3 separate regions of the Homo sapiens genome follow, and regions 2 and 3 are each linked to region 1. The links come from fine-mapping of genetic effects on gene expression. A gene starts in region 1. Each other region holds a variant in brackets. All regions are shown on one strand. Distances are between the middles of the regions. Region 1 holds the start of ZNHIT6 (zinc finger HIT-type containing 6). Region 2 overlaps COL24A1 (collagen type XXIV alpha 1 chain). Region 3 overlaps ZNHIT6 (zinc finger HIT-type containing 6).

Region 1 (4,246 bases):
TGTGTCCAAATTTCCTCTTCTTATAAAGATATCAGTCAGATTGGATTAGGGCCGACCTTAATGGTCTCATTTTAACGAAATCACCTTTAAAGGTCCTATCTCCAAATATACTCACAGTCTAAGGTACTGGGTGTTACGGATTTAACACACGAATTTGAGGGGACACAATTCAGCCTGTAAGAGCCAGTAACTTCGGCCCACTACCACATGGGCCTCTTGGTACTCACAACCTGGCAGCTTGCTTCCCCCAGAGTGAATGATCTAGGAAGGAGACCAAAAAAGCAAGAGCCTAAGGCAGAAACCACAGCCTTTCTCCAAACCTAATCTTAGAGGTAACGTATTACTTCTGCTGTATGCTATCAGTGACACAGACCAATCCTGGGATGATGCAGGAGCAGTCTACACATTGGTCTGAACACTGTGGGGGTGGAGAATCACTGGGGAACATACTGGTGCTTGTCTACCACAAACCTATATCCATAATATATGAAGAACTACTACAATTTGATAATAAAAGACGTCAATTAAAAATGGGCAAAAGATCTGAATAAACATTTCATTAAAGAAAATATCCAAATGGCCAGTTGGCAGATGAAAAGATGTTCAACATCATTAGTCATTAAAGAAATGTAAATTCTCAATGACGTACCCCTACACATCTATAATCAAATAACTGATAATACTAAGAATTGGCCGGGATGTAGAGAAATAGGAACCCTCAGCCAGTAGGAATGTAAAATGGTATAGCTACTTTGGAAAACAGTTTGGGCATTTCTTTAAAAATTAACATAAATTTATATGGCCCAGCAATTCCACTCCTAGTTATTTACTTAACGGGAAATGTAAACATGTCCACACAAAGACTTGCATATGAATGTGGAAGCAGAATTATTCGTAATAGCCCAAACTGGAAACAAGCCAAATGCCCACCAACTGGTACATGCATGAAAAAACGTGCCACATTCATACAATGCAATGTTATTCAGCAATACCGGGCATTAGGCACTTTCGCCTAATATATTTATGATGTTCTCTGAGAGAATCCTGCAGAATGCTGGGAATGGGGAATAGCCTGACGCAGGCTGTTACTTAGAAAGAATGGAAAGAAAAATTAATGCCCTCTTTCCTACTTGAAACCCATCATGATTCCCAGTTATACACTGAGTTTGTGTCTGTCACTGACAGTTGATTCCTATGCATGATCTCATATTATCTTCGCAATGACACTGGGAGATTTATATTAATAATACCATGCTCCCTAGTTTATAGCTTCAAGAAACTAAAGCTTGCAAAGGTGTAACATCAGGTGTGTCCTTTTTCATACAAGATTGGATTTAATGGTTAACACAGATAAGGGTGGGTTTTCCCATTTCCAGAGTGTAAGGGTTTCGCTTCTCTCCCTCTGCCGGTCTCCTCCACTGTTTACACCCAGTAGGGCGTGGAGGGTGGCCTAGGGTGTGGCCCAGGAGGCTTCCCTAAGGGAAGGGGGTGGTGGAAACCAGGCGGTTTGAAGCCCATCAGGATTCCCAGTTATATATCGAGTTTGTGTCCGTCACTGCTAGTTGATTTCCATGCATGATCTCATATAATCTTTGCAATGACACTGGGAGATTTATATTAATAATACCATGGTCCCTAGTTTATAGCTTTAAGAAACTAAAGCTTGGAAAGGCCTAATAACATCAGGTGTGTCCTCCATTTTCATGCAAGATTGGATTTAATGGTTAACACAGATTAGGGTGGGTTTTCCCACTTCCAGAGTGTAAGGGTTTCGCTTCTCTCCCTCTGCCGGTCTCCTACACTCTTTACACCCAGCAGGGCGTGGAGGGTGGCCCAGGGAGTGGCCCAGGAGGCTTCTCTAAGGGAAGAGGGTGGTGGAAACCAGGAAGGAGACGAGAACCCCAGCGGGCAAGTCACGCAGTTACGCTTGTTCGCCCAGAGAATCCGGCAGGGCCTCCGCAGAGCCGTAAAGAGCTCTACAAGTCGTGAAGGGGCGAGGCGCAAAAGCGTAGCTTTACGGCGATTCGAGCAGTCGCGTCAAGCAGGCTATTCCGGGTTTGTGGCTGCTTGGCTCCACACGTGGGCCGCCGTAGGTATTCCGACCGGTAATTCCTCCTATTGGTGTGCAGCAGCCACATTGAAGGATAGAGTGGCAGCAGAGGCCAAGGATCGTGAGTTGATGGAGTTTGCTGCTGAAAATGAAGGGAAGTCTGGGGGAGGTCTCCACAGCGTAGCTGAGGGGGTGCGGCTAAGTCCAGAGCCTGGCAGGGAGGGAGTAAGGGACTTAGCAGGGGCGGAGGAGTTCGGCGGCGGAGAGGAGGGGACAGGGCTGACAGGGATAAAGGAGATAGGGGATGGAGAGGAAGGAAGTGGACAAAGGCCAGAGGAAATACCGATGGACCTAACGGTAGTGAAGCAGGAAATTATAGACTGGCCAGGTACAGAAGGCAGGTTGGCTGGCCAGTGGGTAGAACAGGAGGTGGAGGATAGGCCTGAGGTGAAGGATGAGAACGCAGGCGTATTGGAGGTGAAGCAGGAGACGGATAGTAGTTTAGTGGTAAAAGAAGCGAAGGTGGGTGAACCAGAGGTAAAGGAAGAGAAGGTAAAGGAAGAGGTAATGGACTGGTCAGAAGTGAAGGAAGAGAAGGATAACTTGGAGATAAAACAGGAGGAGAAGTTTGTTGGTCAATGCATAAAAGAGGAATTGATGCATGGAGAGTGTGTAAAAGAAGAGAAGGATTTCCTGAAGAAAGAAATCGTGGATGATACAAAGGTGAAAGAAGAGCCTCCGATAAATCACCCGGTGGGCTGCAAGCGGAAACTGGCCATGTCAAGGTAGGGCATGGGGGATTCCATTTAGGGGAATAAAGCTGTGGAGTCCTCATGTCTAGAGTGAAGGAAACCACACTATCAGGAGAAGGTGGAATAATGAAAAATGAGCACAAGTTTGGGTTTCTGGAGTCAGACGGCGTTCGCGGGGGTGGGTTGGGAAGTGGAGGGTGTTGTACATGACAACACAACAAATTCAGTGAAAATACATGAAATTAGTAGTGTCCAATGGGTAATGGTCAAGTTAGGAAAGTGGAAATTCTGGGGACCAAAAGATCAGTTGGAACTGGATCTGGCTTGACTTAATATGCTCTTTACTCGGTATTCCTTTGAGAGAGAATAGAGATGAGAAAGTCTAATAAAACTAACAATGACAAAGTAGATTAAGTTAAAACTAGGCAAAAATACACTTGACCTCAATTATCAAGCTTCTTCATGGGTGCTGTGAATATTTATTGCTTTTGATTGAATTTCCTTAGTGTGTGGATCATGTGACAAAGGAAATAAGAGTAGTCAGATTCTTGAGAATATTCCCGTCTAGAACACAGTGGGCTAAATAGAAGTAACTGTAGTTTGGTTGTCAGTATCCCAGGAGCATAGAAGAGCAGTTGAGGACAGATGATGGGTTACATGGCATTTCTAGATTATTTCGATGCTCATTCTAGATTAGGCGTGGAGTTCAGGAAAAAGGGTGCTACTACTACTCTCTAAATTTCACTTGGCCTTATATTCTTTGTCTGGTGTGTGCTTTAAAAATATCTAAACATAGCTCATGAATTGGACTTCTGGATACACACACATACAATCATTACCACATTTCCAGGAATCACAAGTTAAAATATCAGTGAATAATCTCATTCCCTGATTATAGTAGAAAAAGAAGTCAAAAGCGAGATGGGTTTTAAAAATTTTAATACATTTTCCTGAGTTACATATCACTAACAACATTGGAAATGTAGTTGTTTTGGGAAGGTTTCATAGAGAAGAATTTTCAAATGATGTTCAACAGCTATCAAATATTTTATCAGTTACTTGTCACTGAGTTTATAAATTGATTGGGAATTCTAAGTTTATAAATAAATACAATTAATATTTGATAATTTAATGTTACATGTGGGCTTTTGTAGGTGTGAGACTTGTGGTACAGAAGAAGCAAAGTACAGATGTCCACGTTGTATGCGATATTCCTGCAGGTATACATGTAACTTCCTACCTTTTAACCTGTATCTGTACCTTTCTTACCCTAAAATATAAAAGTACTTCCCCTTTGTCTTTTCAGTTTGCCCTGTGTAAAGAAACACAAAGCAGAACTGACATGTAATGGAGTTCGAGATAAAACTGCATACATTTCAATACAACAGTTTACTGAAATGAATCTCCTAAGTGGTAAGCCACTTTATGCATAGCAAATTGAGGC
Region 2 (4,246 bases), 110 kb before region 1:
TTTCCATGTGGCCAGATAGACATTGCCTCAACTTTAAATAGCAAGCAACTTTGTCATTTGCACCTTCAATTCATTGCTGCCCTGTTTTTCAGGCATTCTGACTTCACATGCTATTGATTTCAAATTAAATTCTTAAGAAAATGCACTACACTGTTAATAATAAATTAGATGAGAATGAATAAAAAGTAATGATTTGAGATTGTGTTTCTCCTGATTTGTTAAGCAGCCTTCACCCATATTTGTGTTTTCCACTTATGGGAGTAAGTAATAAAATGGGGTTGAATCAGATATGTTAAATAGGCATTCACTTACCTAGAACCCATTTTGTATAGTCTTGGCATCTATTCAGTAACTTTCTGTTAGGTTCCCCAATAAATAATATTAATAAATAAAAATATCATATCGAAGATAAGCCTAAACAAGCAGAGAAAGAAGATAGTTAAGTCATTCACTTAGAATTTTTAATACTCAAATTGGAAAAAGTCATAGAAAACATTGGGAACCTAGAATACTGCTACTGCTGTCATGCTACTTCCTTATATTTGCAGTAAGTGCCTAAGAATGCAAGTTCTGTCCAACATTTGATCCGAAAGTATCTACTTTTTTACAATTAATACTTTCATATTTGCAGGCTTTCTTTTTCCATCTTGAGAGGTCTCAGGAGTAAGACATTTTCTGATGCTTATTAGTATATGTTAAAATTAGGCTAATGAATATCAAATACTTTTACTAGTCAACTGCCTCTCTAGCCTACATGGTCAACAATCCCTGCGTGTTGGAGCTAAAAGGTGCTAAGAAGCCATAGTTTAAATTCTGTATAATCCAGGCAAGCTAGTTCTTCCCTGCTTTGGGTAATGCTGGCATACAACCCAAGGGCACATTAAAAAGCCTCTTAGAATTTAAAATAGTATTAATTGCTACAAGAATAATGACTGACTGTGTATTATTCACTAGGGACACCTTCAGTGGCCAGATGGGTCCTGTCCAATTGCTGTCATCTTGTTTTTGCAAAGCTTTAAATTTATTTTTTAGATTTGGAAATGACCCTTTAAAATTATCTGGATAACCCTCTTAATTTTCAAATGAAGAAATTAAAATCCCAGAGAGATTATGAGTTACCTAAAATCACAGAACTAATTAGCAACAGAAACAACACTAGAAACTTTATTTCCTAGCTCCTGTTATTATGAAGAAGCCTATTACTTGTAATCTTTTAAAAATTAAGTAAAATATGATTAATTTAACCTAACCAACCAATTCATTCATTGGGCATAAGACTGTGGGCAGCTATAAAGAAAAATTTAGAGCAAGTCAAAACCAATTGCAGAACCAACATTTTTTAAAAGACTTTTGTAATGCAAATGTGAGTGAACTGTCCTATAATGACTCTCAAAGACCAAGACTCAAGCCAAAATATTTGTTCTCCCAAAACAAAATTCCAGATTTCAATGAATTGAAATTTCTTGGTGAAAAAAGAAAGAATAATTTTTGCTTAACTCTCTAAATCTATTTTTGCTTTATAAAGCTGCCTTCTTAAAGAGTGTTAGAACTAGTGAAGTATCTAGATAACTGTCCTTCAGCCTCATTTAAACAAACAAAAAACAAGCGTTTGTATTAACGTTGCATATTAAAAAATATTTCCCTTATCAAAAGAATCAGACTGCTTTCTCTAGTAGTCTGTGAACCAGCACAGTCCCAATGAACAGAAGCCTTTCAAAATGGATCTGATTTCAAATGGGCCACTCTACCTATTTTTCAGTGCTGGCCAGGCAAAAAGAAAGCACAATTTTATATGTACTGTAAATCTAATCCATTGACTGCCTTTAACCCCATTCACTCAAATATCCTACATTTGATTTAGAGTTTTCCCCACTCACTCTTTTCAAATTTGGAGTTACAGATGGTAGGGAAGGCAGGTGGAAAATAAGTTTAGTCTTCAGTCATCATCTGTTCACACTAGTGTCCCCTGAAATGCACATCATCACTTTTGGCCCACAGTTGCTATTGTCTCACCGTATTGGCATCTACCTTGGCCCTCCTGCCAGAAGTATTTTGACCTATGCTGGC[A/T]TGTGCAGCTATTTGCTCATCTCAGGTACAAGACCTCCTCAGGCCTCTCAGGGCCATCTTCTTCTGTTCTTGGCCACATATAAATAACATTCTCTGCTCCCCACACCATACAGGGTACTTGGAGGACTCAGAAAGACATTCTTAATCCCACTGTCCTAGACATGTCATGCAGAGATTTTTACTCTATGTACTTTATGTGGACTTCTCAATGAGGACTTTAGTCTCCCTAGGCATCATCTTTGTGCCCAGATCCCCAAACTTATCTGGGAGCATTAGTGTTTCTATCCACCCTAAGAAAGACTCAAGGGCAGGCCAGGCATGGTGGCTCATGCCTGTAATTCCAGCACTTTGGGAGGCCGAGGAGGGCAGATCACCTGAGGTCAGGAGTTCAAGACCAGCCTGGCCAACATGGTGAAACTCCGTCTCTACTAAAAATACAAAGATTAGCTGGGTGTGGTGGTGCATGCCTGTGATCCCAGCTACTTGGGAGGCTGAGGCAGGAGAATCACTTCAACCTGGCAGGTGGAGGTTGCCATGAGCCGAGATCATGACACTGTACTCCAACCTGGGTGACAGAGTGAGACTCTGTCTCAAAAAAAAAAAAAAAAAGGAAAAGAGAAAGACTCAAGGGTAGGATGAGGGGCAAGGGGCTCTTTTCAGAGATTGCCGTCAGTGTCTAACAGTCCCGCTTCTCTTTTTCTTCTTCTTTTCCCTTTCCCCAGCTTGAGGATCTTTATCCCCTTTCATGGGAAAAACTCTTTGTTACATTATTATTATTATTTTAAATCTGTTCTTTATAGCATAAATTTTATGACTTGAGTCCTTTATAACAAACCTTGGTTTTTAACTCAAAGATAGACTTTTAATATTTAAGAGTCAGGCTTTTGTGTTTAAAAAACATGATTTTGAAACTGAAAACATATTTTTTTCAAACTGTTACCCCCACCATGAGTTTCATTGGACTATTTTAAAATTCAAAAGCCAAGGAAAAGTCTATTTTGAAAAATCAAAAGTATAGAACAGATATATCTCGTTGCATAAAAAGAAATACTGTAAAGGAAAAAACACACTGATTAACATAATTGCATATTATGATTCATATGCTATTTAATAAGTATTTCAAGATGACTGAAATCACAACTTTTTTCCACTATTTAAAATAGTCTTTGTTTATTTTGCTTTTTTATTGTGTTAGGAAAAACATATTTTACTTATAGGGATCATATGCTCTAGAAATGTGTATACTTTAATTAAACCCAGGTCACTAACTATCCCATTTTCTGGTTTCCTCATCTTTAGAAACATTTTGCATTAGTGACTTCTAAGACAAGTACAATAGTTTTCAAAGTTGGAAGTACAACCCATGATCCTTATATCTCCCCATTGTCAAATCCTGCAAAAGTTGGATTTTTATCTCTTAGAGAAGATGCTCTTTTTCTCTGTGACAACATATACTATTTCTTCATAAAATGTTTAAGCTGGTTGTCAAAAAAGTAACATCTTTTGAAGTTGTTTCTTTGTTGTTATTATTAAACTGAATCTTTAGCACAATTTGTCTTCAAAATTGAATGATTTAACATCCCATTTTAGTGGGATTATCCTGTTTGTGAGAACTTCTGATGATTTCTGAGAAATGTGTCTGGTAATGACAACATGATTCCTTTTCTTATTTGTGAACCAAGTCACCTTTTCCACATTTTCTTCTTTAAATACTTTTAGAATGTCATCAGAACAATGGCATGATTTGCAAGAGCAAAGTTCCTAACTATCCTGGCAGACCCATTACTGCTGAATCAATTATGATTTAAAACATCTCACACATGGAAAAACAAACAGTTCCGTGGGAAATAAATATCTTTTCCTTGAATCACAAGTATGCTCTTCTCTATTCTTCCAGAAAAGCACATTTTAGGCTATCAGTTCATGTTCTTCTTACCACACTGTAAGTGCCTTGTAAGGAGGAACTTTGCCTTTGCCTTCCAAGCGCATGACAGAGTCCCTGATACATGATACTCAATAAATGTTTACTGAATTAAGTAAATATGTAGCATTTTCAAAAGGAGATCAAGGCCCTTCCTGAAAGTAGGGACATTTATTAAATAATCTATTCAGGTCCCTTTTAGAAGTACAGTTTAAATTCTTAAATCATATAATTGAGAGCTACAAGGAAATTACTAGA
Region 3 (4,246 bases), 34 kb after region 1:
AGTCGTGATTGCAAAGGAAAAATTCTTGAAGGAAATTAAAAGTGCTACTCCAGTGAACACAAGAATGATAAAAAAGTAAAACAGTCTTTTTTTTTTTTTTTTTTTTGAGACGGAGTTTCACTCTTGTTGTCCAAGCTGGAGTGCAATGGCGTGATCTCGGTTCACCGCAACCTCCGCCTCCCAGGTTCAAGCGATTCTTCTGCCTCAGTCTCTTGAGTAGCTGGGATTACAGGCATGTGCCACCACGCCCGGCTAATTTTGTATTTTTAGTAGAGACGGGGTTTCTCCATGTTGGTCAGGCTGGTCTCAAACTCCCGACCTCAGGTGATCTGCCTGCCTCAGCCTCCCAAAGTGCTGGGATTACAGGCGTGAGCCACCGCGCCCGGCCAGTAAAACAGTCTTATTGCTGATAGGGAGAAAGTTTTAGTGGTCTGGATAGAAGATCAAACCAGCCCGAACATTCCCTTAAGCCAAAGCCTAATCCAGAGCTAGGCCCTAACTCTCAACTCTATGAAGGCTGAGAGAGGTGAGGGAGCTGCAGAAGAAAAGTTTGAAGCTAGCAGAGGTTGGTTCATGGGGTTTAAGGAAAGAAGCCATCTCTATAACCTGTGGGTTATGTGTGGGGTGAAGCAGCAAATGGTGATGTAGAAGCCACAGCAGGTTATCCAGAAGATCTAGCTAAGATAACTGATGAAGGTGGCTACACTAAACAGATTTTTCAATGTAGACAAAATAGCCTTGTATTGAAAGAAGATGGCATGTAGGACTTAGCTAGAGAGGGGAAGTAAATGCCTGCCATAAAAGCTTCAAGGGATGGACTGACCCTCTTGTTAGGGGCTAATGCAGCTGGGGACTTAAAGTTGAAGCCAGTGATCATTTACCATTCCAGAGATCCTAGGGCCCTTAAGAATTATGCTAAATCTATTCTGCCTGTGCTCTGTAAATGGAACAACAAAGCCTGGATGACAGCACATCTGTTTATGGCATGGTTTACTGAATATTTTAAGTCTACTGCTCAGAAAAAAAAGTTTGTTTTCAAAACATTGCTGCTTATTGACAACTTCGATCCTCTTTGGGACTCTAAAGAAGGAAAGTTATAACATTAGAGTGAGGACCTTAAAGGAAAATGAAGCACAGGGGAGTTGAATGCCTAGAGCTAGGTCATGTGAGTTTCATTTAAGCATACTTCTTTGACGTATTTTTTGTTTAGATTTATCCCATTTGGCTCTTTGTTAAAATAAGTCTTAATGTTTTGACTTGTAGCTTTCTGAGTTGTGGTCTCTGGGTATCCTGATTCCTTTCTATGCAATGGCATGAGAGCAGTTTCCTTAACTGCTCCCTTTGGGGACATAACATCTTACGGGCATTACTGCAGCTCTTCTCAAAAACCCTGGTATGCTAGGACAAAGAGATTTCCATCCACTTCGGCTCTTCATGGACTTACAGTACACATTTCCAACTTAAAAAATAACTGTTCTCTGGGCCCAAGCAGTGTGTCCTATACTATAAATTTTAAAATACTCAGTATCCCCTGTTTATCTTTTATTACCAAGAATTCTGATTTCCTTGAATTTTGGAAGAAGAGGCTATTTTGTCAGAGTCAAGTTTGACTGGCTTAGGTGAGTGGACACATTAGCCCTCAGAGATATTCTCTTAGTAGGCTTGTGAGACTAAAGCCATGGTCTCATGGCTTAAAACATGAGTAACATTTAAATGAACTAATTAGATAAAATATGGCACATGGCAAGAAAGGAACTGAATTTAGAAGATGAAACAGATAATAAAAGAATTATGTAATGATTGACTAGAGGTAAATTCCAAGGAAACAATGTAAATTATTTTGTTTAAACATGAATTACGTGGAATTGATTTTAGGATTTTACTAAACAAAACTGACCTTTTTAATCGCCAAAGTGAAGGGAATAGTAGATTAATAAAGTAAAAAGTAAGTGGTGTTGACTATAAGGAATACCTAGAATAGACTGATTTGATACTAAACCTGAGCCTAGCTGGGTGCCTGTGGCTCATGCCTGTAATCCCAGCACTTTGGGAGGATGAGGCAGGCAGATTGCTTGAGCTCAGGAGTTTGAGACAAGCCTGAGAAACATAGCAGGACCTCGTCTCCGAAAAAAAAAAGAAAAAGATAAACCTGAGCCAGTCTGAGGAACATGAAAGTACTTTCACTCTACCTTATCTGTGGAGAAAGCT[T/C]ATCTTCCAAATTCCCCCATTTTTGCTATTGACTCGAACTAAGTAATATATGAAAATACTATCAAAGCAAAGGAAGGGGGAAAAGGTTATGTCCCAGGTCCAATTTAAAAATTGCCATTCTGTTTAGCCTTGAGTAGTGATGGCATCATTTGACAGCAATAATAATGTCAGAAATTCCTGTTGAGGTAGCTTTCTTCTTGAAGTTGGACCTAAATTGGCATAGGGCATCTTTATATTTCTGATTATTAGGTCAGCCACAAAGCATAGTTATGCTAATTTCTAAAGAACCTCAATTTTATAAGTATTTTGTAGTCATAAGTAATGAAGTTAGATAGTATAGAGATATATTTAGGCGTAGATTTTTATTTTTTATCAGATTTTTAAAACATAATGTTCTCTGTAACATACTCATGAATGGACTAAGATGAGCATTTACATTTGATTGGTACATCCTTAAAGGAAAGTACATTACAGTTACATCCTTAAAGGAAAGTACATTCAGAGAACATCTAAGGAAAATTATTATAGGTTATAAATGTTAAGCTCTAATTTAAGATAAGCATTCTAAATAGAACCATTTTATTAATTTCCTGAAAAGTGCTTAGAAATCAGAAACATGTAGTTTCTTTGTGGCTGTTTAATTCTACATTTACAGCATTACAGTAACTTCAGAGTAAAGTCTTTTTACCAAATACTTGATGTTGCCAGTTTCCATTGGTTTTACTTTCCATTCTTGGAAGGTATATAGCAATTGTCTCATGATATAGATATACCTGGTCAGCTAGAGCATGCTTAAGTTTTTTCCAGGTTTTAGCTTTGCCATACATGACTTATTTTTTAAATTGCGATCCTAGAATGTATGTCTAATCTAAGGAATTCGCTACTGATCTGTTTGGGAGTTTTCTTTCCAGAATACATAGGGTCTGAATTTATCTCTTAGAAAAGCTATTATAGCTTTTTAAATAAATTCACTTATTCATTCAGCAAACAGTGAGTATGCCAAAGTCTAGATGCTGTTCTAGACATTGAGGCTATGGCAGTAAAGAAGAGTGTTCCTGCCCCTGTGGAGAAGATCATTCATGTAAGATGCTTGTGTTAGTAAAGCCATTCTTGCCCTTTGCCGCCTTATTTCTTACCAACTTTCTATTCTCAGAAAGTAAATGAGTGGTTTTGGACTAGAAAAGCCTATGTTGCTAAATGTCAGGCACTATCAGAGGGCAGCTGTTGTATTACTGCCCACTTAAGTTACTACTGACTGAAGAATTTATAAAACAACCAACTTTGTCTATTCAAGTACAGTTTTCCAAATCTATTAAATTTTAAGCCTGGATTTTACTTTTATGGAATTATTTACCAGAAAGAAATTTAGATACATTTTGTTTTTTATGTTTACTTTGCTGCTTTGATACTTGTAAATCTTCGTGGTTTTTTTTTTTTTTGTGATTTAAGCAGTTATAGGATGATCCTTTCCAAATTTATTCAAAAAAAACCATTAAGTACATTTAATCTTCTAGGCATATAAATAAAAATTGGAGTTTATACAAGAATGAATAAAATACAGTTCTGTTGTAGTAAGGAAAACAGACACACTGTATATATCATAAGAAACCTATGTCTAAGTCTTAAAAGTGATGTGGAAGGTAGCAGGTATCCTCATGTCATCAGAAGGCTTTGTTGTGGAAGTGATGTTTGATTTTTATTAAAGGTGAATGGCCTATGACTAGGAGAGGGTACAGAGGGCCTTAAGAAGTGCAAGGGCATGGTATGTCATAAACAAGGCAAGTAAGTGATTTGAGGAGGTTGGAGTGTATAGATGTATGCAGAGCAGTATTTTTTAAACTTTTTTTTAAAAGTTAAGGTTGAAGAGTTAGTTCAAGACCCAATACTAACGCTGTCTGGATCTGGTCTCCTTGGCAGTAGAAAACTGTAAAAATCTAGCAAAAAAAAAGCAGTAAGACTTGGTGATCAAGTTGGCTATAGGGAGCAATAAATAGGAATCAAAGGTGACTACAGTTTCTGGCATGATTGCTGTTTACAG

Evidence for each region. PIP is the estimated chance that this variant, and not a neighbour inherited with it, causes the effect.
Region 2: its variant is the best candidate, but not a certain one, in a credible set for the expression of ZNHIT6 in nasal epithelium (TOPMed, PIP 0.58).
Region 3: its variant is the best candidate, but not a certain one, in a credible set for the expression of ZNHIT6 in stomach (GTEx, PIP 0.51).

Annotation. Positions count from the first base shown.
Region 1 is chr1:85,706,218-85,710,463 of GRCh38, reverse strand. It overlaps ZNHIT6 (zinc finger HIT-type containing 6), which reads left to right and starts at 2,031. Exons shown (of 10, transcript NM_017953.4): 1 at 2,031-2,835; 2 at 3,957-4,022; 3 at 4,109-4,215. The coding sequence starts at 2,180. RefSeq lists enhancers at 1,108-1,940, 1,879-2,238, 1,941-2,774.
Region 2 is chr1:85,818,279-85,822,524 of GRCh38, reverse strand. The region is part of intron 45 of COL24A1 (collagen type XXIV alpha 1 chain); the gene reads left to right. Among named protein-coding and RNA genes, the nearest start is that of ZNHIT6, 110 kb to the right of the region's middle. The variant A/T (reference allele first, on the strand shown) is at 2,068.
Region 3 is chr1:85,672,197-85,676,442 of GRCh38, reverse strand. All of the region lies in intron 8 of ZNHIT6 (zinc finger HIT-type containing 6), which reads left to right. Among named protein-coding and RNA genes, the nearest start is that of ZNHIT6, 34 kb to the left of the region's middle. The variant T/C (reference allele first, on the strand shown) is at 2,209.